Regions from separate parts of the Homo sapiens genome. Here regions 1, 3, 4 and 5 are each linked to region 2. The links come from fine-mapping of genetic effects on gene expression. A gene starts in region 2. Each other region holds a variant in brackets. All regions are shown on one strand. Distances are between the middles of the regions. Region 1 overlaps ATF7IP2 (activating transcription factor 7 interacting protein 2). Region 2 holds the start of ATF7IP2 (activating transcription factor 7 interacting protein 2). Region 3 holds the start of MIR548H2 (microRNA 548h-2). Region 4 overlaps ATF7IP2 (activating transcription factor 7 interacting protein 2). Region 5 has its middle 55 kb from the start of ATF7IP2.

What was found. PIP is the estimated chance that this variant, and not a neighbour inherited with it, causes the effect.
Region 1: its variant is the best candidate, but not a certain one, in a credible set for the expression of ATF7IP2 in whole blood (Lepik 2017, PIP 0.64).
Region 3: its variant is the best candidate, but not a certain one, in a credible set for the expression of ATF7IP2 in whole blood (INTERVAL, PIP 0.84).
Region 4: its variant is the best candidate, but not a certain one, in a credible set for the expression of ATF7IP2 in blood mononuclear cells (TOPMed, PIP 0.52).
Region 5: its variant is the best candidate, but not a certain one, in a credible set for the expression of ATF7IP2 in whole blood (INTERVAL, PIP 0.68).

What each region holds. Positions count from the first base shown.
Region 1 is chr16:10,430,317-10,435,284 of GRCh38, reverse strand. ATF7IP2 (activating transcription factor 7 interacting protein 2) reads right to left here. Exons shown (of 14, transcript NM_001393719.1): 5 at 3,830-4,674; 6 at 1,636-1,760. The coding sequence starts at 4,664. Among named protein-coding and RNA genes, the nearest start is that of ATF7IP2, 47 kb to the right of the region's middle. The variant T/C (reference allele first, on the strand shown) is at 2,457.
Region 2 is chr16:10,383,217-10,388,184 of GRCh38, reverse strand. It overlaps ATF7IP2 (activating transcription factor 7 interacting protein 2), which reads right to left and starts at 2,124. Exons shown (of 14, transcript NM_001393719.1): 1 at 2,063-2,124. RefSeq lists a silencer at 2,246-2,385.
Region 3 is chr16:11,302,126-11,307,093 of GRCh38, reverse strand. It overlaps MIR548H2 (microRNA 548h-2), which reads left to right and starts at 567; the gene lies at 567-654. The region is part of intron 1 of LOC105371082 (a long non-coding RNA gene); the gene reads right to left. The variant G/C (reference allele first, on the strand shown) is at 2,484.
Region 4 is chr16:10,470,301-10,475,268 of GRCh38, reverse strand. ATF7IP2 (activating transcription factor 7 interacting protein 2) reads right to left here. Exons shown (of 14, transcript NM_001393719.1): 10 at 3,086-3,159; 11 at 1,735-1,790; 12 at 1,280-1,346. Among named protein-coding and RNA genes, the nearest start is that of LINC01290, 55 kb to the left of the region's middle. The variant T/C (reference allele first, on the strand shown) is at 2,100.
Region 5 is chr16:10,328,363-10,333,330 of GRCh38, reverse strand. No RefSeq gene overlaps it. Among named protein-coding and RNA genes, the nearest start is that of ATF7IP2, 55 kb to the left of the region's middle. RefSeq lists silencers at 1,572-1,772, 3,485-3,779. The variant G/T (reference allele first, on the strand shown) is at 3,137.

The DNA.
Region 1 (4,968 bases), 47 kb before region 2:
CTCCTTATGAAACCTCAAAAGGCTAAGAAATGATCACTGCAGGACTCCTTCAGTAGGGGAGAACAATGTCAGAATGACGGGGAGGGCTATCTCATTGAGATTCAAACAAGGTAAACATCTAGATATGGTTGAGAGAGACAACTGTTTGGACAGCAATAAGAAGTGAGGAAAAGCTAGCTATTTAGAGATGGTTATGTACACATCAGAAGTTACTTCTGGCTGGGCGCGGTGGCTCACACCTGTAATCCCAGCACTTTGGGAGGCCGAGGCGGGCGGATCACTGAAACTGCTGTTCAAGACCAGCCTGGCCAACATGGTAAAATCTGTCTCTACTAAAAATACACACAAAAAGTTAGCTGGGTGTGCTAGTGCACACCTGTAGTCCCAACTACTCAGGAGGTGGAGGTAGCACTGAGCCGAGACTGTGCCACTGCACTCCAGTCTGGGTGACAAAGTGAGACTCTGCCTCAAACAAACAAACAAACAAAAACTTACTTCTCACTTCAGCTACTAATTACTGGAAACAAGACACAGCTGGAATCCCCAACCTTCTTCTTGAATAACATGGTCCTTAGGGCTAGGATCCATGCTTACCATACTTCTACCCTTTCCCTGCCAACAACAGAACACTTACATATTTTTTACTGTCTCCTTTGGTCTTCTTCGAAGAAAACCAAAAGGGAGACACAGAAAAACTGTTGACTCGCCCTTTAAGCTGGTTCTGCGTAACTCTTTCCCTTTATTTTCCCTTATTATTAGGTGAAGAATACACATTCATAGTATATGTAACTATGTAATTGTAATGGTCTGTTTTAAAAAATGGTAGTGTTTCTGTTTCTGAAACAGTTTGCAGGGTAGTTTAGACGGGGAAATTTCGGTCCATTACAGCTGGAAGACATTAGTCTACTAGGTAATGATTTGTAGTGGTGGCATTCTAGTGGTAGTGAAATAGGAAAACATGGTCATCAAAACCCGTCCTCAGTATAACCATTCTACTAGAACTGAAACACGCTACATACACTTCAGCTAACAATTGATCAAACGCATACTGAGACTGTAGTACAATGAGATAAAATGAGGCCACAATGAAAGCAAGAAGTGTATTTAATGATGCTATACAGCAAAATGTCAGATAATGTACCATATCCGTTTAAGTTTGGAAAATAGGGCAAGTAAACCTGAATGCACAGGGACTTTGCAATGGACTTCCAGGTTGTTTGAGTCTTCTGGGTTGTGGTGAGATCTACAAATGGATAGAGCTGCAGATCTAAGAACCCCATGACTAGTACAAAAGAGACTGGATTCTTTAATAAAGCTGAAGGTCATGCAGTGTCTGACTTACAGACAAATATGAGTGTAATACTGACTGAAAGCCCATTCTCTTTTTGCAACAGGACTCTACCTACACATGATCCCTAGGTTATTCTGCATGAGACCATTTTCAAGAAACCAGAGCTGTTTTGGTAATGTAAGTAGTTATCTCTCCCCAGTCTGTCTGATAATTTGGCTTTCACACACCAGCTCTGCAGCAAGTGAAAGTCGTCTGTATTATGCCACTGTGGGGACCAGATAATTAACTTTTACCATGTTTTACTAATCAAAAGTAAAAGTTCCATTTAAGCCCCAATATTTTACCTGTTCCAGGAATGCTGTTTGCCTTTCCAAACTTACACAAATATTTTCATTAATTTGCTCTGAAGTTTTCATGCGTTTAACATTTTCCTCGTTTTCTGAAAACATCCTCTTCTTTTGATAATGGCCTTGAGGAGATCAAAAGATTAGAAAGAAAGATATTTTAAAGAAAAAAACAGGTTCAGTGTGGTGGCTCATGTCTGTAATCCCAGCACTCTGGGAGGCTAAGGAGGGAGGGTGGCTTAAGGCCAGGAGTTCAAGACCAGCCTGGGCAACATAGTGAAAATTCATCTCCACAAAAAATTTAAAATTAGCTGGGTATGGTGGGGCATGCCCGTAGTCTCAGCTACTCAGGAGGTTGAGGTGAGAGGATTGCTTGAGGCTGGGAGGTTGAGGTGGCAGTGAGCACCTTGACTACTGCACTCTAGCCTGGGCAACACAGTGAGACCCTGTTTCAAGGAGGAAAAAAGAGAAGGAAATAGGAATTCTCTAATTTAGAGACCCTCTGAGCAAATGGAAAAACTAAAATGTGACACTGCAGCATTTTTTAGAACATTCAATTGCATAAATACGTACCCACAAACTAACCTTGAAAAAAAATGAGTTATCTTAGGTAGGGTTCTGGTCTCAGATACTCTGTCCCTTTAATCTTACTTAATAACTCAATACACATATACGAACAAAAACTTAACAAATTATGGCATTTAATTCTCTATTTATAGTGACTTAAGTGGTTCTACGTTATTTTATATAAAGGTACTCTTTTTTCATTTTGAGAAGGAGTCTCACTCTTGTCGCCCAGGCAAGAGTGAAGTGGCACGATC[T/C]TGGCTCAGTGCAACTTCCGCCCCCCAGGTTCAAGCAATTCTCCTGTCTCAGTCTCCCAAGTAGCTGCGATAATAATAATAGGTGCCCACCACCACGCCTGGCTAATTTTTTTTGTATTTTTAGTAGAGACGGGGTTTCGCCATGTTGGCCAGGCTGGTCTTGAACTCCTGACCTCAGGTGATCCACCTGCCTCAACCTTCCAAAGTGCTGGGATTGTATTCGTTAGGCACAGCGCCCGGCTTCTTTTTTTTTCTTTAAGAGACAGGGTCTTGGATCTGTTGCCCAGGCTAGCCTGGATGGCTCAAGCGATCCTCCTGCCTCGGCCTCCCAAAGTGCTGTTAATTACAGGCATGAGCCACCACACCCAGCCTATTATACATATTTGAAATAGATGATACTGTTATTATTTTTAAGGAATTTTAAATTCATCTTGTTAAATGACCATTCTGTAGTCTAGACAAGAACACAAAATTTATAGCATTAAATCAGTTTTTTTCTATTTCATTAACAAAATACCCTACTTCAAATGAAATTCACTTTTGCTATTTTAATGATGTTATAACCCAAGGACTTCATTTATTATTTGGGGTGCTTCTCTTTCTCTACACACACATATACACATGTGTGAATATATTATCTATCATACTTAGCATGTGATTTACAGGTCAATTCTATAGAAAGAAATAGGGTTGGCTGGGCACAGTGGCTCACGCCTGTAATCCCAGCACTTTGGGAGGCCAAGGCGGGTGGATCACGAGGTCAGGAGTTCGAGACCAGCATGACCAACATGGTGAAACCCTGTTTCTACTAAAAATACAAAAAAAAAAAAAAAAAAAATTAGCCGGGCGTAGTGGTGCCCATCTGTAATCCCACCTACTCAGGAGGCTGAGGCAGGCAAATCACTCGAACCCAGGAGGTGGGGGTTGCAGTGAGCCAAGATCGCGCCACTGCACTCCAGCCTGAGCGACAGAGCGAGACTCCGTCTCAAAAAAAAAAAAAAAAAAAAAGAAATAGGGTTACCAACAATTTTTAAAACTCACTCTTTCAACTAGCCTCCTTCTTAATCTAATAAAACTTCAAAATAAGAAGAGATGTATATGAAATGAACCAAATAATTGCTATAAACCACCTTTTGATATTTTGTACTTAAGGAAAAGTGATTGATTCCTTCTTTGCAATAATTACCCTTTTAATATGGTGGATACCTGTCCCCCACCTCACTAAGAATGGTTCAGAAACAAGATACTGTGAAATAATTGTCATCATTTACCTTTTTTCTGTCTATACTGGTTTGTATATTTGAGACTTTAAAATACCCTAAAGAAAAGTGACTATTTTAATTTTTCTAAAAGGTGCATAAGTATATACTTACTGTTGTTATTAGTGTCAAGTGATGACTGCCATGTTGAGTCTGCACTTTCACAATTTGAAATACTGGTTCTACTACACTCATCAGTTTTCAAAATGTCATCAGCACAGTTGTTAGAAGTGACTGAATTCACCAAATTAGGTGTTTTCTCAACAGGCACAAAACCTGAGTCTTCTGAACATAAAATGTTGTCACTTTGCCTTTTATCATGTGATTCTGAATTGGAGTTTGTTTCTAAATGGAAAACCATCTGGTCAGTTTTCTTGTCACCCACGGTACTGGTTACTGTAGACTCTGGCATCTGAACAACACCACTCAATACACTGGGTGGACAGCAACTGGACTTTAGACTACAAGCCCCCTCATGCTCAAAAAGGGATCTTGTTACATTTGTCTGATGCTCAGAATCGTTTTCAGAAGTGTTCAGTGAATCTTTTGCCTCTTCTGTGAAGACTCTGCTGGGGGATTCTGTTGTTCTACTTGGCTTTTGGTACGAACAAACAACTTGTTCCAATTTTGTTTCTGAATGAACAATTTCTTCTACTGGTTTTATGCAATTCTGAGAGAATACTTTACTTTTCTCTGATATTGAATTTTTATTAGAGTCCAATGAGGATGCACCATTTTCAGAAGGGCTACATTTGGTTATTTCAGTCGTCCTAGTTATGACACTAGGACTGAAACTCTGATTACCGCTTGGAACATTACTCCCAATTGCTGTTTTCAGCGCTTCAACATTCCTTGACTTATTCAGCATCTCTACTTGCTTCCGGCAACTTAGGGGCATTGTCTTTTTGGCTTTTAATATCTTCCGTTTACTTCTATCTGGACTTGCCATCTTTCATATCCTGGAATTTAAGACATCATATTTAAATGCATTTCTCTAGTGAATAAAAGTTATTTACTACTGAATTAAAGTTATTTATTTACAATATTAAAATAACATTGACACTGTCTCTCCATATTTAGATAATCACCTTACTGAAAATCATATCCATTTTCATGACACTGAAAACATAAAAATCTTTTCTATTGTTTCTATAAATCTAAACTACATAAATTCAAAATCTGTATTGCTAGTAAGCCTCTACCTGATAGTTTTATCTAGCCACTTCTTGTTATATCACCTCAGTGCTATAACC
Region 2 (4,968 bases):
GCGCTAAGACTAGCGCCTGTCATCCTAGCACTTTGGGAGGCAGAGGCGGGCTGATCACCTGAGGTCAGGAATTCGAGACCAGCCTGGCCAACACGGTGAAACCCCATCTCTACTAAAAATACAAAAACTAGTCGGGCGCCTATAATCCCAGCTACTTGCAAGGCTGAGGCAGGAGAATCACTTGAACCCGGAGGGAGGAGGTTGCAGTGAGCCGAGATCGCGCCACTTCACTCCAGCCTGAGCCAAAGAGCGAATCTCTGCCTCACAAAGAAAAATAAATAAGTAAAATAAAATAAAATAAACGAGATAGATAAGTCACCGCAGTGTGTGTGTGTCCGGGTGGCGGGGGGAGGGGGGGGGAGTAAAATAGACTGACATAGAATGAGAGAATAAGATTTTTTGGTATTTTGTATCATCTCGCTCAACAATGAGAACTAATACTCTTGCGCATTTAAAGTTGTATTTTATTTTTAACTATCCAATATATTAAACTTTGATTACATCAAATGAAATAGATTGTGCACACTCACTATAAGAGAGCTATGATATATGCAGAAGCAAAGGTGCAGGGATCATGCAATAGTTTCGTACCAGATTTCAAGATACCAAGTAGCAAGGAAACACAATGGAATTGAAGGCTGAGGTGAAGTACAGGCATAAGGCAAGGAAAGCAGAACATTCAAGATGTACCTATATACACCAGTTCTTAAAACACGCAAATCATTTCCAATAAGGCACTGGCTCATGTATTTCTGTTGAGGCAGAAGTCAATCTTAGGATGTGGTCTGTACATATCTGCAGATAAGACTGAGAGTGAAGTAAATTTGATTAAGATCGGAGTCAACACTTCTACAAACGTATTGCAGAATAAACGAGCTAAGAAGAAAGGCATACTTCACAAAAGCTGAATTCAGTGTTATTAGTCCTTCATTCAGATGCTTCATTTTTGCATTTTCAATTGCTTTCCTGTGATATAACTTATCTTTATCTTGGTCTTCCCCATTTGTTTTGCAAATAGTTATGTCGCAGGTCATTTACTGGCTACAATAAATATGACAAAATCATAATAAAAACAGTATTAAGTCGCAATCTAGAATAACAATTTAAGTGAATATGACATAATTTTTCTAATGTGGACTATTCAGTACAACTGTCCTCTTCTTCCATACATATTAACCATATGCAAGTCTTCAGAACAGAAAAAGCCATTGTGTCGTAAAGGAAGGAACACGTGGTTAGAAACTTCATTTTCAACACAGAAACACGGAAAGGTAGAAAGTCCGTTTCCTTAAGTGCGGTAAGGTTTTAACAAAAATAAGGCAAAAAAAATTATTGCGTCCTCTCTTTCTCAAACTTGCTTGCCAAACTTGGAGAAAACTGGTTAGAGAAGGGCGATAAGATGGAATTTTCTTAAAAACATATTCATAAAAACGAACTTCTACCTTAAGGAAATCGTCTTCCTTAAATCCTACCATCCTTACACCGGCAAGCTCAGAGGTACGGGATTTCAGCATTTTACTCAGAATTTTGTATTTTTCCTGATGCTCTGGTCCCTACTTTTTAACAAACTTCAAGGCCGCCAGGCGAGATCCAGTTGCCTTCTGGCACCTGACTTCATTAGATGATTAAAACAACTCAAGAAAATTTGGCAATGGGACACTAAAATTGGTGGAGGTGGAGATTTATCCGTTAATTTCTGAAAGCATTCCGGACAAGAGCGAGCTTTTACTTACCCCTCAGGACAAAAAACACGCACCACTTCCCTCCGCAGTCCCTAACCCCAGTGCCGCCCGGACCTGAGGCCGCACACCACTCCCGCTTCACCAGTATCCCTCTGCGAAAACGGTGGAGACGCGCCCGTCCGCCCCTCAGGGGCCTCTTCCCGGACCTGTCAGACGGCCCCGCGGACGCTTTTCAGTCAGGGCAGCTTCGCCGCAAACGTCCGGTAGGCCCGGCGCTCCGAGGCCTCCGGGGCCGGCCCTCAGAGAGGCGACCGACGCTCCTAGAGCCGCCACCCCGCCAATCGCCGCTCTCGCAGGACACTCGCCCGGCCCCAACGTACCTAGAGCGACGACGCACCAGCCGCAGCAATACCCACAGCCACTTCGAACCGCAGCCGTTAACAATGCTGGTCCGGCCAGGACCTGCTGAAGTAGGTCTCCCTACGCCCACCCCCAGCTGATTATGGACCAATGGCAGCGCGAATATGCGGCAGCCCAGCCAGTCAGGCACAGCCAGCTAGAGTGGGCGGGGCGAAGGGTCGCGAGGGGAAATGGAAGTAGGCTGAGGGGCGCCTGGGGTTCGCCTCCGTGGGCGCTTCTTCCGGTCAGCCACCGGGGCTTACCCGCCATAGCGCAGATGCAGGCTCCTGAGCTGGGCCTTTCTTTTGAGTGACTCGTGTGAAGATTTAGACTTTCGAAACTTATTAGGAATAAGACCTTATTTACAAAAACAACTCCTCACCCGGTCGGTAGTTTCCGATTTGAATTTTCTAATATTGTTTGAAAATATTTATCTTATTTACTTTTTTGGACGACTCCTTAAATTTTGTGACTCAGGAGATTGGTCCTAGCACCGTAGTCTTTTTTTTTTTTTTTTTTTTTTGAGACGGAGTTTCGCTCTTGTCGCCCAGGCTGGAGTTCAGTGGCGTGATCTCAGCTCACTGTACCCCCATTTCCCACCTCCCAGGTTCAAGCGATTCTCCTGCCTTAGCCTCCCGAGTAGCTGGGACCACAGGTGTGCACCACCATGCCCGGCTAATTTTTGTACTTTTAATAGACATGGGGTTTCACTATGTTGGCCAGGCTGGTCTTGAACTCCTGGACCTCAGGTGATCCGCCACCTCTGCCTCCCCATATGTTGGGATTACAGGCATGAGCCACTGCACCCACCCGCACCATAGCCTTGAGTTTGCTAAATTGTCCCAGGAACCTGCCAGCCTTGGCTGCTTGTGATTTCATGAGGCCCGATGCCTTAGGTGGCTGTGCACTTGGATGCCATGAACTCACTCAACAGGTGGTCACTGAATGCCCACTGTGTAGAAAATACAGGAAATACAACAGTAGATTAGATCCATAATGCCCTCTTTTTCATTAATTAATTTATTTATTTATTTGACAGAGTTTTGCTCTTGTTGCCTAGGCTGGAGTGCAATGGCGCGATCTCGGCTCACCACAACCTCCGCCTCCCGGGTTCAAGCGCTTCTCCTACCTCTGCCCCCAACAAGTAGCTGGGATTATAGGCATGCGCCACAGTGCCTGGCTAAGTTTTTTTTTTATTTTTAGTAGAGACGGGGTTTCTCAATGTTGATCAGGCTGGTCATGAACTCCCGACCTCAGGTAATCCACCTGCTTCGGCCTCCCAAAGTGCTGGGATTACAGGCGTGAGCCACCACGCTTGTCATGAGGCTAGAGCTGCCTGCCTTGTCACTTCCAGTTAGGAGAAAAATGAGGCAAGTCCGGACAATCTAGGTTGGGTCATCAATGGAATAACATACTCCAACCAGCCAGTTCCCCAAATATGCTCCAGGGATCTAGGGGTAATCTTTAATGTCAATCCTATTTTTATAATTATACTATTTTTATAATAATATAAAGATGATTTTGCTTTTTTCATTCTCTGAGTCAGGAGAGTACATGGAATTTTCTAGAAGCCTCTGGAAAATCGACGGGTGATATTGCTACAGATTGAATACAGAAGCAGACATGAGAATCTAACTACCAACCTGGGCAACAAAGTGAGATACCCACTTTTCTAGAAAAGTAAAAATAAAAAGTTAGCTGCATCCTTCCACCTACACGGGAGGCTGAGAGGACGGGAGGATCGCTTAAGCTTAGGAGTTAGGGACTGCAGTGAGCTGTGATAGTGTCACTGCACTCCACCCTGGGTGATAGAGCAAGAGACTGTCTTAGAAAAGAGAGAGAGAGAGGCCAAGCGCAGTGGCTCACATCTGTAATCCCAGCACTTTGGGAGGCTGAGGCAGCCGGATCATGAGGTCAATAGTTCGAGACCAGCCTGGCCAACATAGTGAAACCCCATCTCTACTAAAAATACAAAAATTAGCCGGGCATGGTGGCGCGTGCCTGTAATCCCAGCTACTCGGGAGGCTGAAGCAGGAGAATCGACTGAACCCGAGAGGTGGAGTTTGTGGTAAGCCAAGATCGCACTACTGCACCCCAGCATGGGCAACAGAGTGAGACTCCGTCTCAAAAACCAAAAAAAAAAAAAAAAGAGAGAGAGAGTCTTACTGTATTAAGTCAGACGTTAAGGAAATTAGCAAAAATGTAAAACAATCCTAATCTTTGCACATTTTTTGTTGTTCTAGAACATGATTTTGAAAATAATTATAGGGTTGCTAAGAGAGATAGTGTGGGAGGGAGTGGGAGGTAGTAAGTTGCAGTCAGATAAGGAATTTGGACTTAATTCAGTTAACAGTGAGTAACTAGCCTTTAGAAATGTTATGTCTATTTAAGGTACTAGGATATCTTGTATGTCATTTTAACAATAGTAATATAATAGGCCAGGTGGACACCTGTAATCCTAGCATTTTAGGATGCCAAGACCGACAGATAGCTTGAGCCCAGGAGTTTGAGACCAGCCTGGGCAATATAGCGAGACCCCATCTCTATAAAAAAATTATAATAATTGATATTTACTGGACATTATGTTAATAAAGTTTATTGTTGGCTGGGTGCGGTGGCTCATGCCTGTAATCCCAGCACTTTGGGAGGCCAAGGTGGGCAGATCACTTGAGATCAAGACCATCCTGGCCAACATGGTGAAACCCTGTCTCTACTAAAAATACAAAAATTAGCTGGGCATGATGGTGCGCACCTGTAGTCCCAGCTACTTGGGAGACTGAGGTAGGAGAATTGCTTGAACCTGAAAGAAGGAGGTTGCAATGAGTCAAGATCACGCCACTGCACTCCAGCCTGGTGACAGAGCGAGACTCCATCTCAATAAATAAAT
Region 3 (4,968 bases), 920 kb before region 2:
AGTACAGTAGTGCAATCTCAGCTTACTACAACCTCCGCCTCCAGGTTCAAGTGATTCTCCTGCCTCAGCCTCCCGAGTGGCTGGGATTACAGACGCCCACCACCACACCTGGGCAATGTTTGTACTTTTAGGAGAGACGGAGTTTCATCATGTTGGCCAGGCTGGTCTTGAACTCCTTCCCTCAGGTGATCTGTCTGCCTCGGATCTCCCAAAGTGCTGGGATTAGAGGCATGAGCCACTGCACCCGGCCAAACGTTTATTTCTTACAGTTCTGGAGGCTGAAAAGTCCAAGATGAAGGTGCTGGCAGATCCAATGTCTGCTGGGGGCCTGTTTATTGGTTCACAGACCGGAAAGAAGGATTCTTGTTGGATCTTTAATGGCGAAAGGTGTGAACCCGTTCTCATGGGATTGTTTTATAAGGGTGCTAATCCCATTCATGAGGGCTGTGCCCTCATGAACTAATCACCTTCCAAAGGCCCCGCCTCCTAATGCACCATCACAGTGGGGGTGAGAATTTCATCATATGCATTGCCGGAGGGCCCAAGCGTTCAGACCATAGCAATGTGTATTAGGTTGGTGCAAAAGTAATCGCGGTTTTTGTCATTACTTTCAATGGCAAACACCACAATTACTTTTGCACCAACCTAATATAAACCACATCATGTTCATCCATTCACCCATTAATGGGCATCTGGGTTGCTTCCACATTTTGGCTATTGTGAATAGTGCTGCTATGAACATGGGTGTACAAAAGGTTTTGTTGTTGTTGTTGTTGTTTTTTGAGATAGTCTCACTCTGTCACCCAGGCTGGAGTGTAGTGGCGTGATCTCAGCTCACTGCAGCCTCCACCTCCTGGGTTCAAACGATTCTCCTGCTTCAGCCTCCTGGGTAGCTGGGAAAACAGGCATGTGCCAACATGCCCAGCTAATTTTTGTATTTTTAGTAAAGACAGCATTTGCCATGTTGACCAGGCTGGTTTTGAACTCCTGACCTCAAGTGATCTGCCCGCCTCGGCCTCCCGAATCTCTGGGATTACAGGTGTGAGCCACTGCGCCTGGCCAGATTTTTTTGCTTTTTATAGAGATGGGGTTTTGCTATGCTGCCCAGGCTTAATCTAATTTTGTCTCCACGAATTTGCCTATTCTGGACATTTCCCATAGATGGAACCATATAATAAGTGGTCTTCTGTGCCTGCCTTCTTCCACACACCGTGTTTTCCACGTTCACTCATGGTGTAGTTTGAATGTAGTATCGTGGTTTAAAATCAGTTCTCAGAACCTCATTCCTTTTTTGTTGTTGTTGAATAATATTCCATCGCATGCCTCGGGAACTTTTTATTTTTATTTGTAATTTTTTTGAGACGGAGTCTCGCTGTGTCGCCCAGGTTAGAGTGCAGTGGTGCCATCTCAGCACACTGTAAGCTCCGCCTCCTGGGTTCATGCCATTGTCCTGCCTCAGCCTCCCAAGTAGCTGGGATTACAGGCATCCGCCACCACACCTGGCTAATTTTTTGCATTTTTAGTAGAGACAGGGTTGCACTGTGTTAGCCAGGATGGTCTCGACCTCCTGACCTTGTGATCCGCCCGCCTCGGCCTCCCAAAGTGCTGGGATTACAGGTGTGAGCCACCACGCCCAGCCAGGCCCGGGAGCTTTTAAAACATACCGATGCTGGTGCCCCAACTGAGACACACTGATCCAAGTAGCCTGAGGTGGGGCACCACGATCTGTAGAAACCTCCAGGTGGTTCCATCTGCTTCCAGTGCTGAGACTCATGCTGCTTTCTCTGCTTGGGGATTCCAGGGTAGATATTACAGGCAACATTTCAGCCCGGGGTTCCGCAGCTGAAGTGGAATCTGACTTCCTTCCTCCATTTGGCAGCACGAATGAGATGCTGACTGCATGCGTGGCACTGTGAGACCCAAATGACCATGACGGAGACTTTCCCTCATATGGTTTGGTGTCCTTAACTACTGGCACAGGAGGCCTGGTGTATGTTTAATAACAAGTAGAATGAAACAAGAATGGAAGGAGAGGACGACTGCAGGGGTAGGCAGTATTACTTAAGTAAAGCGAAGGTTCTGTCTTTGGGGAATGCTGACCCCTAAAATGGACACAGTGAGAAAAATGCTTCCACAGGGACCATATTTTGCCTACAACTTTAGGAGATTCTCTACCATGAAATCTACCCATGACCCGTAAGTTGAATCCCTTGTTTCAGAGAGAGAGAATGATGTAATTCACACATTGAACACTATTATTATTATTATTGTTATTATTTTGAGACAAGGTCTGTCTCTGCCACCCAGGCTGGAGTGCAGTGGAGCAATCTTGGCTCACTGCAAGCTCCGCCTCCCGGATTCATGCCATTCTCCTGCCTCAGCCTCCCTAGTAGCTGGGACTACGGGCGCCCGCCACCACGCCCGGCTAATTTTTTGTATTTTTAGTAGAGACAGGGTTTCACCGTGTTAGCCAGGATGGTTTC[G/C]ATCTCCTGACCTCGTGATCCGACCGCCTCGGCCTCCCAAAGTGCTGGGATTACAGGTGTGAGCCACCGCGCCTGGCCTCTGAACACATTATTTTCTAAGCACTTACGACTTGCTAGGTGCTGGGACTGAAGCCATGAACAAAACAACGTCCTTGTTCTTAAGGATATTGTGATTTGGTGGAGAGAAGCAGCTAGCACACAGAGAGGCAAGACAGAGCACCCGATTGTCCAGTGGTATGGGCGGATAATGTAAGGAGGCACCCAAAATGTGTCCCTTCCAGGCACAGCAGCCCCAGGACACTTTGCTGAGATCTGGAAGCTAGGAAGGCATCAGCCATGCCCTAATGCAGAAAAGCATTCCAGGCAGAGGGAACGGCAACGTGATTTCAATTCCGGCAACTGAAACATAACGCATGTGGAGGGGTGGGGGAGATGGAGTCAGAAAGGTGGGTCGGGGCAGGGTGAGAAATCTCAAGACTATTGGAAATGGTTTTGTGGAGTGGGGGCGGGTGGGGGCTCCTTTTCCAGCACAAGGACCCAGCAATGTAAACAGGACAGACTTGACCCAGTTCTTTTGGAGCTGGGAATGTTAGCACTAGGGAACATATCTGAGTCACAGGGCACCAGTGTGTGTTAGCGGCAGTGAGTCCATACGAGTCTGCAGCAACCTCAATTCTTGCCTCCTCCGAAGAAAGAATTCGACGCAGGGGGCATAAGGCAAAGAGAGGCAAGCTCTAGAGCAGGAGTGAACATTTGTTAAAAAGTTTTAGGGCAGGAATGAAAGGAAGTCAAGTTCACTTGGAAGAGTGCCAGGCGGGCGACTTGAACGAGTCAACTGCCCACTTTGCCATTTGACTTGAGGTCTTATATGCTGGCACGCTTCCAGGGTTGCACTACTTCTCCCGATCCTTCCCTTGGGGTGGGCCGTCCCCTTAGCCGTGGCCTGCCTGTCCTTGGGAGGGGAGCATGCGCAGTGTGTTTACTGAAGTTGTGCGCATGCTCACTTGAGGCGTTTTTCCCTTACCAGTCCAGCGTTCCTAGAAGCAGGTCACAGACCAGACTCTGCCATTCTGCCTCTTAGTATGCATGCTTGAGCCAACTCTGAGATCTTATCGCAAAGCTGCTGATCATATTTCTGGTGTTTTTTAATCTATTGGGAGCCTGCCTTTCCTCAGTGCTGGCTACAACCAATTATTATTTTGGAGAGACAGTTAAATCACCTGACCATCACCTGATGGTGGCCTGACAGTCCTGGTTGGGGGGCACCCTCTCCTGCCCTGCTTATGTCTGACTGCCTACTGTAACAAGGGCAGACAGAGGGCAAACTTATTTTACAAAATGCGTCTCAACAGGTGAAAGGCGGAGGGTGGAGGCATCTTGGGCCAAGAGAGGCAGGAGGAAAGGCCCCAGGCTGGAAAAATCAGGGGCCCCCTTTGCAGATAAAGTGTCCACAAGTGGGGCTTGTACAGACCTGAAGCAGCTGCAGGAACACTGGCCATCTGCCAAACAGAAAACGAGACTAAAGGTGTTTCAACAAAGTCAAGAGAGATGGAGGAGACCTGCTAGTGTTTGGGAAAACATTGAAACTGGGCAAAACCAGCGCATCCAAACATTTTCTCTGAGATTGAAAACTTTATAGATATAAGAAAAGTATGTATGTGTGTGTGTATATATATATATAATATACACATACATATATACATACATATGTACTTGTCATATGCCAGGTGCTGGGCCATATGCCAATATATTACTATTTAATTTTTGTTTTATTTTTTGTAGAGATGGGGTCTTGCTATGTTGCCCAGGCAGGTCTCGAACTTCTGGCCTCAAATGATCCTCCTGCCTCAGCCTCCCAAGTAGCTGGGATTACAGGCTTGTGCCACCACCTCTGGCTAATTTTTAAACTTTTTTGTACAGGTGGGGTCTCACTATGTTGCCCAGGCTGGTCTCAAATTCCTGGGCCCAAGTGATCCTCCTGCCTTGGCCTCCTAAAGCACTGGGATTACAGGTGTGAGCCACCATACCCAGCCTAAGATATTACTTTTATTCACATCCTTATTGTTGCTTTTGACAGCTTCCTGGGATTCCTTTTGGCACTCATCTGTGTCCCATGTGTACTGGCCCCAAAAAGATAAGTTCACATCTTAACCCCTTTCAAAGCCTTATGAAGGTGACTTTGTTTGGAAATAGGATCTTTGCAAACATGATTAAGTGAAGGATCTAGAGATGAGATCATTCTGGATTAGGGTGGGCCCTGAATCCAACAACAAGTGTACTTAGAAGGGTAGAAGACAATGGAAAGGAGGCCTTGTGAAGAGGGAGGCATAGACTGGAGTGACTAATGCATCTCCACACCCAGGAGCATTGGGGGTCGCCAGCAGCTCCCAGAAGCTAGGGAGAGGCATGGAACAGATTCTCCCCTAGAGCCTCTGGGAGGAACCAGCCCTGCCTGCCAACACCTTGACTTTGAACTTCTGGCCTC
Region 4 (4,968 bases), 87 kb before region 2:
CCACTCCATTTAAGAGCCTTGTAACAGCATACTTCCAATCCTGTGACTATCTTTTGCACTACTGTTTTCATCTACTGACTTCTATATACATTCTACAATATAGTTTTATTCTTTGTGTAGATCTACTTTCCATCTGGTATCTTTTACTATCATTTGAAGAATTTCCTTTATTTCTGATAGCAAAGGTCTGCTGGCAACAAATTTTGTTGATCTGAAAAATTTTAATTTTGCTTTATTTATTCTTATTTTTGTAGAGATGGGGTTTCCCTATGTTGCCTAGGCTGGTCTCAAACTGCTGGCCTCAAGCCATCCTCCTGCCCTGACCTCCCAAAGTTGCTTTCTTTTTTGAAAGCCATATTTTCTAGATAAAGAATTACAGGTTGACAGTTATTTTCCCCCAACCTTTTAATGAAGTCATTCAATTGTCTTTTGGCTTGCATTGTTCTAGCCTAGAAACCTGTGAATTCTTTGTTCTTTCACCTGCATTGTATCTTCATTTTTCTCCTTATCACTGGATTTCAGGAACTTGACTATGTTATGTCTTGGTATGAATTCTTTTGTGTTTATCCTGGAGTTTTTTAAACACCTTGGGTATGTGGGTTTATACTTTTCATTAAATTCCAATGAGACCTTATAACTGATCCCCAGCCCCACGACTGTATTTCACTTCTTTTTCCTTAAATCTGTGAAAGACGACAGACACTGTTGTCACTCTCTGTCTACATTTTCATGTTATACCCCAGTTTCTGTTTCTCTGTGCGTCCTCTTAGCTGCTATTGTTGTGGTTAGGGAAAAAAGTATGTACCACAGGAAGAAAATAAATGTGTAAAAGTCCCCAACAAGCCAGATGTCTTTCAATGGGTTTATGAATAAAGAAATTATGATGCATCCACACCACGGGCTACTCTTGGCAATAAAGAGGAACACACTACTGTTACACAAGAATGTGGATGACCCTCGGAAGAAGTCAATCTCCGAAGGACACATACTGCATTATCAAATTTATGTAAATTTGTGAAATAACAATTATAGTACAGAACAGATTGGTGGCTGCCAGGGATTGGGGCAGAAACAAGGTGTGAGTATAAAGGGGTAGCATGAAGGAGCTTTGTCACTGTGACGGCAGTTACATGAATCTGCACATGAGCTAAAACTGCACAGAGATATAAACATAGGCACACTCACATATTAAAACAAACTTCATAAGTAGACCCAGTGCATTATGAGTTGTTACCCTTCCCTCCTTTTTACAAAAGAAAGATCTAAAAAATCCTTTTACCTGTATTGCAGTTGGATAGGCCTTCTTTTGTCAAATCAATTATAGAATCAAGTTTCTTCTGTACAGCCTAAAAAAATTGTAAAAAAAAAAAAAAAGCTTTGCCTCAATAGCTGAAAATGTTTTTAAAAATTTAAAACCATTTGGTAATTTTAAATGGTAATTTTAAATCACCATTCGGAAACTAGAGATGGAACATTCTCTAAGTCTCTTGTGGTTTAACTCTACTATTAAAAAGCTCTTATAAAATACTAAATGGTTTCTGAGAATATGACTAAGGAGAATGTAAATGAATTTGGTAAATGAGTATCGTTATGAATTATGCTTATCATTAGCTGTCTGCTTTTCAGTGTGTAACGTGGACTAAAACTAAATCATCCAACATGTAGCAAACACTAAAGTTCCTTGAACTAACATATTTAAATAAACAATATTCAGAGTCAATATTTATTACTCACCATAACTTCAGCATTGGGAGAATTGCTAGAATTTCCTGATGTAATTTTTCTGGTATCTGAAAGAAATTAGACATTTGACAAATTTATTACACAATATTTATGGGCTTTGTGAAATATGAATGCTAAAACAAAATAATAGGGATGCTAATTAGCTGTTAATTATACAGTGATAAAAAGTAACTCAATTGACTTTACCTATTCCAAAGACTGAATGAAATTTTTTTAAAAAAATGTAATTTTGGGTCAAACCATTTTGTCTTTCTGTAACTTTGCAACTATATTAGTAACTCTTTTTTTGAAAATCTACCTAGAAATTTCCATGAGAAAATACACCTGGAAATGCACACACTTTTAATTCACAGTAT[T/C]TTTAGACTACAACTGCCTGACATGGCTGAGAAGCACTCTTCCTGGAACCAGTAGGAAGCCTAAGATAAATGATTAACATCCTTTGTAATTCTCTGATTCACAATCTTAGCCCAAATTGTGGGGACAATTAAGTAGCTATTAAGTGGAGGCAAAGCTTTAAAATTAAGATGCAAATACTTTAACATAGTAGAAAATGAAATGAAAATGGGGAATTTTGAATAAGAAATTATGAGCCAAACAAGATGGGTATTTTTGAGAGAGAGAAAAGTTATCATTGGAAATGTAAGGTTAAAATTTTTTTTTTTTTTTTTTTGAGACGGAGTCTTGCTGTTTTGCCCAGGCTGGAGTGCAGTAGCACGATCTCAGCTCACTGCAGTCTCTGCCTCCAAGGTTCAAGCAATTCTCCTGCCTCACCCTCCAGAGTAGCTGGGATTACAGGCACCTGCCACCATGCCTGGCTAATTTTTGTATTTTTAATACAGATGGGGTTTCATTTTGTTGGCCAGGCTGGTCTTGAACTCCTGACCTCAGGTGATCTGCCTGCCTCAGCCTCCCAAAGTGCTTGGATTACAGGTGTGAGCCACCACACCCAGACTGACTAGACAAATTTTAAATCTTAAGTAGACTATAAGATAACTTAATAGATAAAAAATAAGAAGACAAAAAACAAACCGTCACTACCATCAAAAAAAGGCCAGGGCAAACCATTAAAAATAAGTAGTTTTTACAAGTTATAAAGTCATTAAACACATAAAAGAAACAAAAGGCCCTAAACTGATAAAACACAAGGTTAAAATGAAATCTCAATTACATTAAGGAATCATTTATTTAGGTAATATTAACCATGATATAAATTAGAACATTTGAGAGTACATTTAACTTTTTCATTTTATTAAAAGATATTATTCAATTTTTCACTTTAAAGCAAACATTGATTTAAGGCCTTCTAACTTGATAGATCATATTCTAATCAGCTATAAGATACCTGTTGGATTTGATGTAATTGGAGTTGTCAAATTAGGACTTTCCACAGAAATCAACATAACATCATCATTGTTACTAAAATGATAAAAAGAAATTAAAAACAAAAACTAAACATGCATTATCAGGCTTAAACATGCAATTAGTGGTTAGGAGTCCTCTAACTTAACATTTCATAATGTTTTAATTGAACAATCGTGGGGGGAAATAGAAATGATAAAACCAAATACCCAAAAAAACTCCATTTATTACCAGTTCCGTTATATGACTAAAGATTCATCAAAATCCAATAATTAGATCCCTACTACATTTTATGGGTCTTTCACAATGACTCAAAATATATATAAGTATACAATGGACATAAATGTATAAAACATACAAATTCCTTTGAGCGTATATACTTACTTCTATAAAAATGAAACATCATGTAATGAAGGAAATCTATTAAGACCCATAAAGACACCTGGACTCCTAAAGGTAGAAAACTATAACAAAGAAAATTATTTTAAAAAGAACTGCTACTACTCTTCATTTTATCTCTCCAGTAGCAATATTTACCACAAATTTGAGACAATGATGATAAATGATGCTGATTACGGTTATAGAATATTTCAAGCCATTTTGACCCTTTTTTTTTATGAGCGACTTTTTTGTTTTTTGAGATGGAGTTTTGCTCTTGTCCCCCAGGCTGAAGTGCAGTGGCGCAATCTTGGCTCACCGAAACCTCTGTCTCCCAGGTTCAAGCGATTCTCCTGCCTCAGCCTCTTCAGTAGCTGGGATTACAAGCATATGCCACCATGCCCGGCTAATTTTTCTATTTTTAGTAGAGACAGGGTTTCACCATGTTGGTCAGGCTGGTCTTGAACTCCTGACCTCAGGTGATCCGCCCACCTTGGCCTCCCAAAGTGCTGGGATTACAGGTGTGAGCCACTGCGCCCAGTCCAATTATACCATTTTCTTGCAGACATCTTCTGTTTTTACTGTTTGTACTTAGGTGTATGATCCATTTTGAGTTAATTTTTGTTTATGGTATGAAGTAAGAGCTGAGGTTCACTTTTCCCTCTATTCCAGCAACATTTTTGAAAAGAACATCTTTTCCTGTTAAACTACATCGGTACCTTTGTTGTAAACCAATGAACTACATGTGCAGTCTCTAGTGTGTCCACTGGTCAACATACCTATCCCTATGCCAACACCACTGTCTTAATACTACACCTTTATAGTTAAGTCTTGAACAAAGATAGTGTAGTCTTCTAACTTTCTTTCCCAACATTGTTTTCATCTTCTGGGTCTCTGCATTTTCATATATATATTCACACACACACACACACACATATATATACACACACATATATATATATATACACACACACATATATATATATACATATATATATATTTTTAAGAGACAGACTCGTGCTCTGTCTCCCAGGCTGGAGTGTAGTGGTGCAAATGTATCTTGCTGAAGCCTGAACCTCTGGGCTCAAAAGATCCTCTCATCTCGGCCTCCTAAGTAGCTGGGATGACAGCATGTGTCACCAGGCCTGGCTAACTTTTTAAAAAAATTTTTTTAAAAATGTTTTTTTATGTTGGCCAGGCTGGTCTTGAACTCCTGACCTCAAGTGATCCTCCTGCCCTGGCCTCCCAAGATGCTGGGATTATAAGTGTAAGCCATCATGCCTGGCCTTAAGTTTTTAATCAGTTTGTTACTTACTACAAAAACGGCTGAGGCATTGATAGATATACAATTTGGGGTGAAGTAACATCTTAATGAATTCATGAAAGTTACATATCTCACCACTTATTTAGGTCTCCTTTAATTTCTTCAGTAATACTTTGTAGTTTTAGGTTAGGTGGTTTTGGTTTATCCCTAAATATATTATGTTC
Region 5 (4,968 bases), 55 kb after region 2:
ATTCTCCTACCTTAGCCTCCCAAGCAGCTGGGACTACAGGTATGCGCCATCACGCCCAGCTAATTTTTGTATTTTTAGTAGAGACGGGGTTTCACCATGTTGGCCAGGATGATCTCGATCTCTTGACCTTGTGATCTGCCCACCTCAGCCTCCCAAAGTGCTGGAATTACAGGCATGAGCCACCCCATCCGGCCCACATTTTATTAGTTTTACATGTACATGGGGATCTTCACAAGAAACAAAAAAATGATTCTTTTTTTTAGATGGAATCTTGCTCTATTGCCCAGGCTGGAGCGTAGTGGCGTGATCTCAGCTCACTGCAACTTCCGCCTCCTAGATTCAAGCAGTTCTCCTGTCTGAGCCTCCTGAGTAGCTGGGATTACAGGCACACACCACTACGTCCAGCTAATTTTTGTGTTTTTAGTACAGAAGGGGTTTCATCATGTTGGCCAGGCTGGTCTTGAAGTCCTGAGCCCAAGTGATGTGCCTGCCTTGGCCTCCCATAGTGCTGGGATTACAGGTGTCAGTCACCGTGCTCGGGCCCAAGAATGTGATTCTTCACGAGCAGGAAGATTGGTTGGGCCCAAGAGTTTGAGACCAGCTAGGCAACATAGCAAGACCCTATCTCTATAAAAAGAAAAGTGAAATAATTATCTGGGCTTGGTGGAGCATGCCTGTAATCACAGCTACTTGAGTGGCTGAGGCAAGAGGATGGTTTGAGCCCAGGAGTTTGAGGCTGTAGTGAGCTATGATCATGCCACTGCACTCCAGCCTGGTGACAGAGCAAGAGCAAGACCTTGCTCTAAAAAAAAAAATTAAAAAGGGCTAACTGACCTCTCTCTTTGTGCATGCAGCAGGCCATAAAAATTCCTCTGGGAGGAGGGCTGTCACATACCAGGGTGAGAAAATAGCCCTTATCACCAGAGACTGGGAATTGGGGACTGTGATGGACCTGAATAAACATACTTAATGAAACAATCTTTATCTTCCACTGTTTGACACCCCCATATATCTCCTAGCAACTCCCCTAGAAAATTTATTGCCCTAGCCAGGTTTTCCTGTCATTTCTTCTCAAATGTAATCTAAATAGTGTACAAATAGTATACAAGCATCTATCTTTAGCCACTTGTTTGAACTTCACGCTATTATGAAGACCCCCATGTACAGGTAAAACTAATAAAATGTATATACTTTTGTTAATCTGCATGGTGTCAATTTGGTGTCTAGATCCAGCCAAAGAGCCCACATAGGAGCTAAAGGGGAGCTGGAGGTGACCACTGGCTCCTTTACAAGGTCCAGCCTTTTGATTTCATAGCACAAAATCATGGGCTTTCTGAGGCCAGGCACAGTGGCTCATGCCTGTAATCCCAGCACTTTGGGAGGCTGAGGAGACCGGTGATCATAAGGTCAGGAGTTTGAGACCAGCCTGACCAACATGGTGAAACCCTGTCTCTATTAAAAATACAAAAATTAGCTGGGCATGGTGGCACGCACCTGTAATCTCAGCTACTCAGGAGGCTGAGGCAGGAGAATCGCTTGAACCCGGGAGGTGGAGGTTGCAGTGAGCCGAGATCACACCACTGCCCTCCAGCCTGGGCGACACAGAGCGAGACTCCGTCTCAAAAAAAAAAAAAAAAATTATGGGCTTTCTGATCCTTGGAACTGTAAACACGCACCTCCAAGGCTGACATAGAAGGAGGAGTACAGGAGGCAATCCAGAGATAAGATTTTCTTTTAAATTTTTATTTTTTTGGAGACAAGTCTCACTCTGTTGCCCAGGCTGTAGTGCAGTCATTCCATCATAGCTTACTGCAGCCTCAGGCTCCTGGGCTCAAGTGCTCCTTCTGCCTCAGCTTCCTGAGTAGCTGGGTTATAGACGCGCACAACAAGCCTAGCTAATTTATTGTTTACTTTTTGTAGAGACGGGGTGTTGCTCTGTTGTCCAGGCTGGTCTTGAACTCCTGGGTTCAAGTGATACTCTCGCCTCAGTCTCCTAAAGTTCTGGGAGTACAGGAGTGAGCCACTGCACCTGACCCAATAAGAGATGCTTCAATTATTCTCTCTTCTACTTTTCTGTAAATTCTGTTCAGATTTTGTCCAGACTATCAGAAAAAAAAGAAAGAAAGAAAGAAAAGAAAGAAAGAAAAAAAAAGGAATCAACAGGTCAGAGGCAAATAAGCATTTATTCAGGAATGGGGGTTGCAACCAGGCCCCAGAGACCACCACCCAAGAGGGACAAGAAAGGCTTATAGGAAATTTTTCAGATGACATAAATTACCAGATTATTTTATTGATGGATTAAGCAAAGAAGTTGTTAGTCATTAGTGGAAGGGTACATTTGGGTCAGTTAGGAAAAAACTACACAGACTGTCCCTAAAGATTAGGACCAGATTCCTTGTATTGTATATTGTCGAGAGCATGGTTGTTTGTGAGAGAACTGTTTTTCACAGTTCTTTGTGGGTCTCAAAGTCCACCACCCAATCTAGGCACAGTGGCTCACACCTAAAATCCTAGTACTTTGGGAGGCTGAGGCAGGCAGATTAGCCCAGGAGTTCAAGACCAGCCTGGGCAACATGGTGAAACTCTGTCTCTACAAAAAATACAAAAATATTAGCTGGGTGTGGTGGTGCACACCTGTCGTTCCAGCTACTCAGGAGTTTGAGACAGGAGGATTGCATAAGCCTGGGAGGTTGAGGCTGCAGTGAGCCACTGAGCCATAGTCGTGCCACTGCACTCCAGCGTGGGAGACAGAGACTCTGTCTCAAAAAAAAAAAAAAAAAAAAAGTTCATCATTAGTTCAGTCTGGGGTCAGTAGCCCAAGATAGAGTCCCCGATGTCAAGCGTAGAACAATGCTCTATTCAAACACTCAAATGACCTGTGACAGAGATTCTCTTCTTCACCAAACTCTACTCAGGTTCTCCTAAACTCTTTGTCCAGTAGGTTTCAACTTTTGGAGTTCCGTGTTGATAAAAAAAAAAAATTTCAGGCCGGGCGTGGTGGCTCACACCTGTAATCCCAGTACTTTGGGAAGTTGAGGCAGGTGGATCACCTGAAGTCAGGAGTTCGAGACCAGCCTGGCCAACATGGTGAAATCCCATCTGTACAGAAAATAAAAAAAATTAGCTGGGCATGGTG[G/T]TGGGTGCCTGTAATCCCAGCTACTTGGGAGGCTGAGGCAGGAGAATTGCTTGAACCCGCAAGACGGAGGTTGCAGTGAGGCGAGATTGCACCAGTGCACTCCAGCCTGGGCGACAGAGCAAAACTCTGTCTCAAAAAAAAAAAAAAGAAAAGAAAAGAAAAGAAAAGAAAAGAAATGGAGAAGTAGAGCACATGCTCAAAGCACCTTCTCCCTGAGGGTATGGTGAAGGGGGGTTTTTAAGGTCTCTTAGAACATGTAGGTGGAGACTGGGGGGTGGTGATTTATGGAAAAAGGTGGGACCTTCCAGGGAGAACTGGAGCATGCACAGTCTCCTTCTTTCTTTTCCACTGGCACTATATATGCCTAGCAAAGCACATTTCTCCCCATCCCAGGTGAATATTTTCATACAGCGAAAAAGCAAGGATTCAGGTCCGGGTAGCAGGATGGTAGTGTTTACTATACAGACTCAGACTTGGGAGCCACAGTTCTTATCCTGTGGCTCGTTTGTGGTTACTGACATCCGGCCTTCATTTCTGTAAGCAAGCACATCTGCAAGCACAGGTTAATGTCACAAGTTCTGGGGCTTTTTTTTTTTTTTTTTTTTTTATTCTTTGAACGGAGTTCCACTCTGTCGCCCAGGTTGGAGTGCAATGGTGCAATCTCGGTTCACTGCAACCTCCACCTCCCAGGTTCAAGCGATTCTCCTGCCTCAGCCTCCCGAGTAGCTGGGATTACAGGCATGCACCACCATGCCTGGCTAATTTTGTATTTTTAGTAGAGATGGGGTTTCTCCATGTTGGTCAGGCTGGTCTCAAACTCCAGGCCTCAGGTTATCTGCCCAGCTTGGCCTCCGAAAGTGCTGGGATTACAGGCGTGAGCCACCATGCCCGGCCTATTTTTATTATTTTCTTTTTGAGATAAGAGTCTTGCAGCCGGGCGCAGTGGCTCATGCCTGTAATCCCAGCACTTTGGGAGGCCGAGGCAGGAGGATCACGAGGTCAGGAGATCGAGATCATCCTGGCTAACGTGGTGAAACCCCGTTTCTACTAAAAAAATTAGCTGGGCGTGGTGGTGGGCACCTGTAGTCCCAGCTACTCGGGAGGCTGAGGCAGGAGAATGGCATGAACCCGGGAGGTGGAGCCGAGATGGGGCCACTGCACTCCAGCTTGGGCAACAGAGTGAGACTCTGTCTCAAAAAAAAAAAAAAAAAAAGAATCTTGCTCTGTCACCCAAGCTGGATTGCAGTGGTGCTATCTCAGCTCCCTGCAATCTCTGCCTCCCAGATTCAAGCGATTCCCCTGCCTCAGCCTCCCGAGTAACCAGGAGTACAGGTGTTTACCACCATGCCCAGCTAATTTTTGTATTTTCAGTAGAGACGGGGTTTCGCCATGTTGGCCAGGCTGGTCTGGAACTCCTGACCTCAGGTGATCTGCCCACCTCAGCCTCCCAAAGTGCTGGGATTACAGGTGTGAGCCACCATGCCAGGCCTATTATCTTTAAACCAAAATTAGGGATGCCTTTGCTCTCCAGATATCGGGATATCTGGACACTCCCAAGTCTGAGTCTGTTCGGTAAACACTATCAATCTGTTCCCTTAACTGTAAACATCTAGAGGCTAGGAATACCTTTCTGGGAATGCAGCCCCGTAAGTCCCAGCCTCATTTTCCTAGCCCTCACTCAAGATGGAGGCATGCTGGTTTTAAGGCCTCTGACAAAAGCAGTGGTTAGAATCTGGGCTCTAGGCCAGGTTGAAGCTGCAGTGAGTCATGATTGCACCACTGCACTCTACCCTGGGTGACAGAATGAGACCCTGTCTCAAAAAAATAATAAT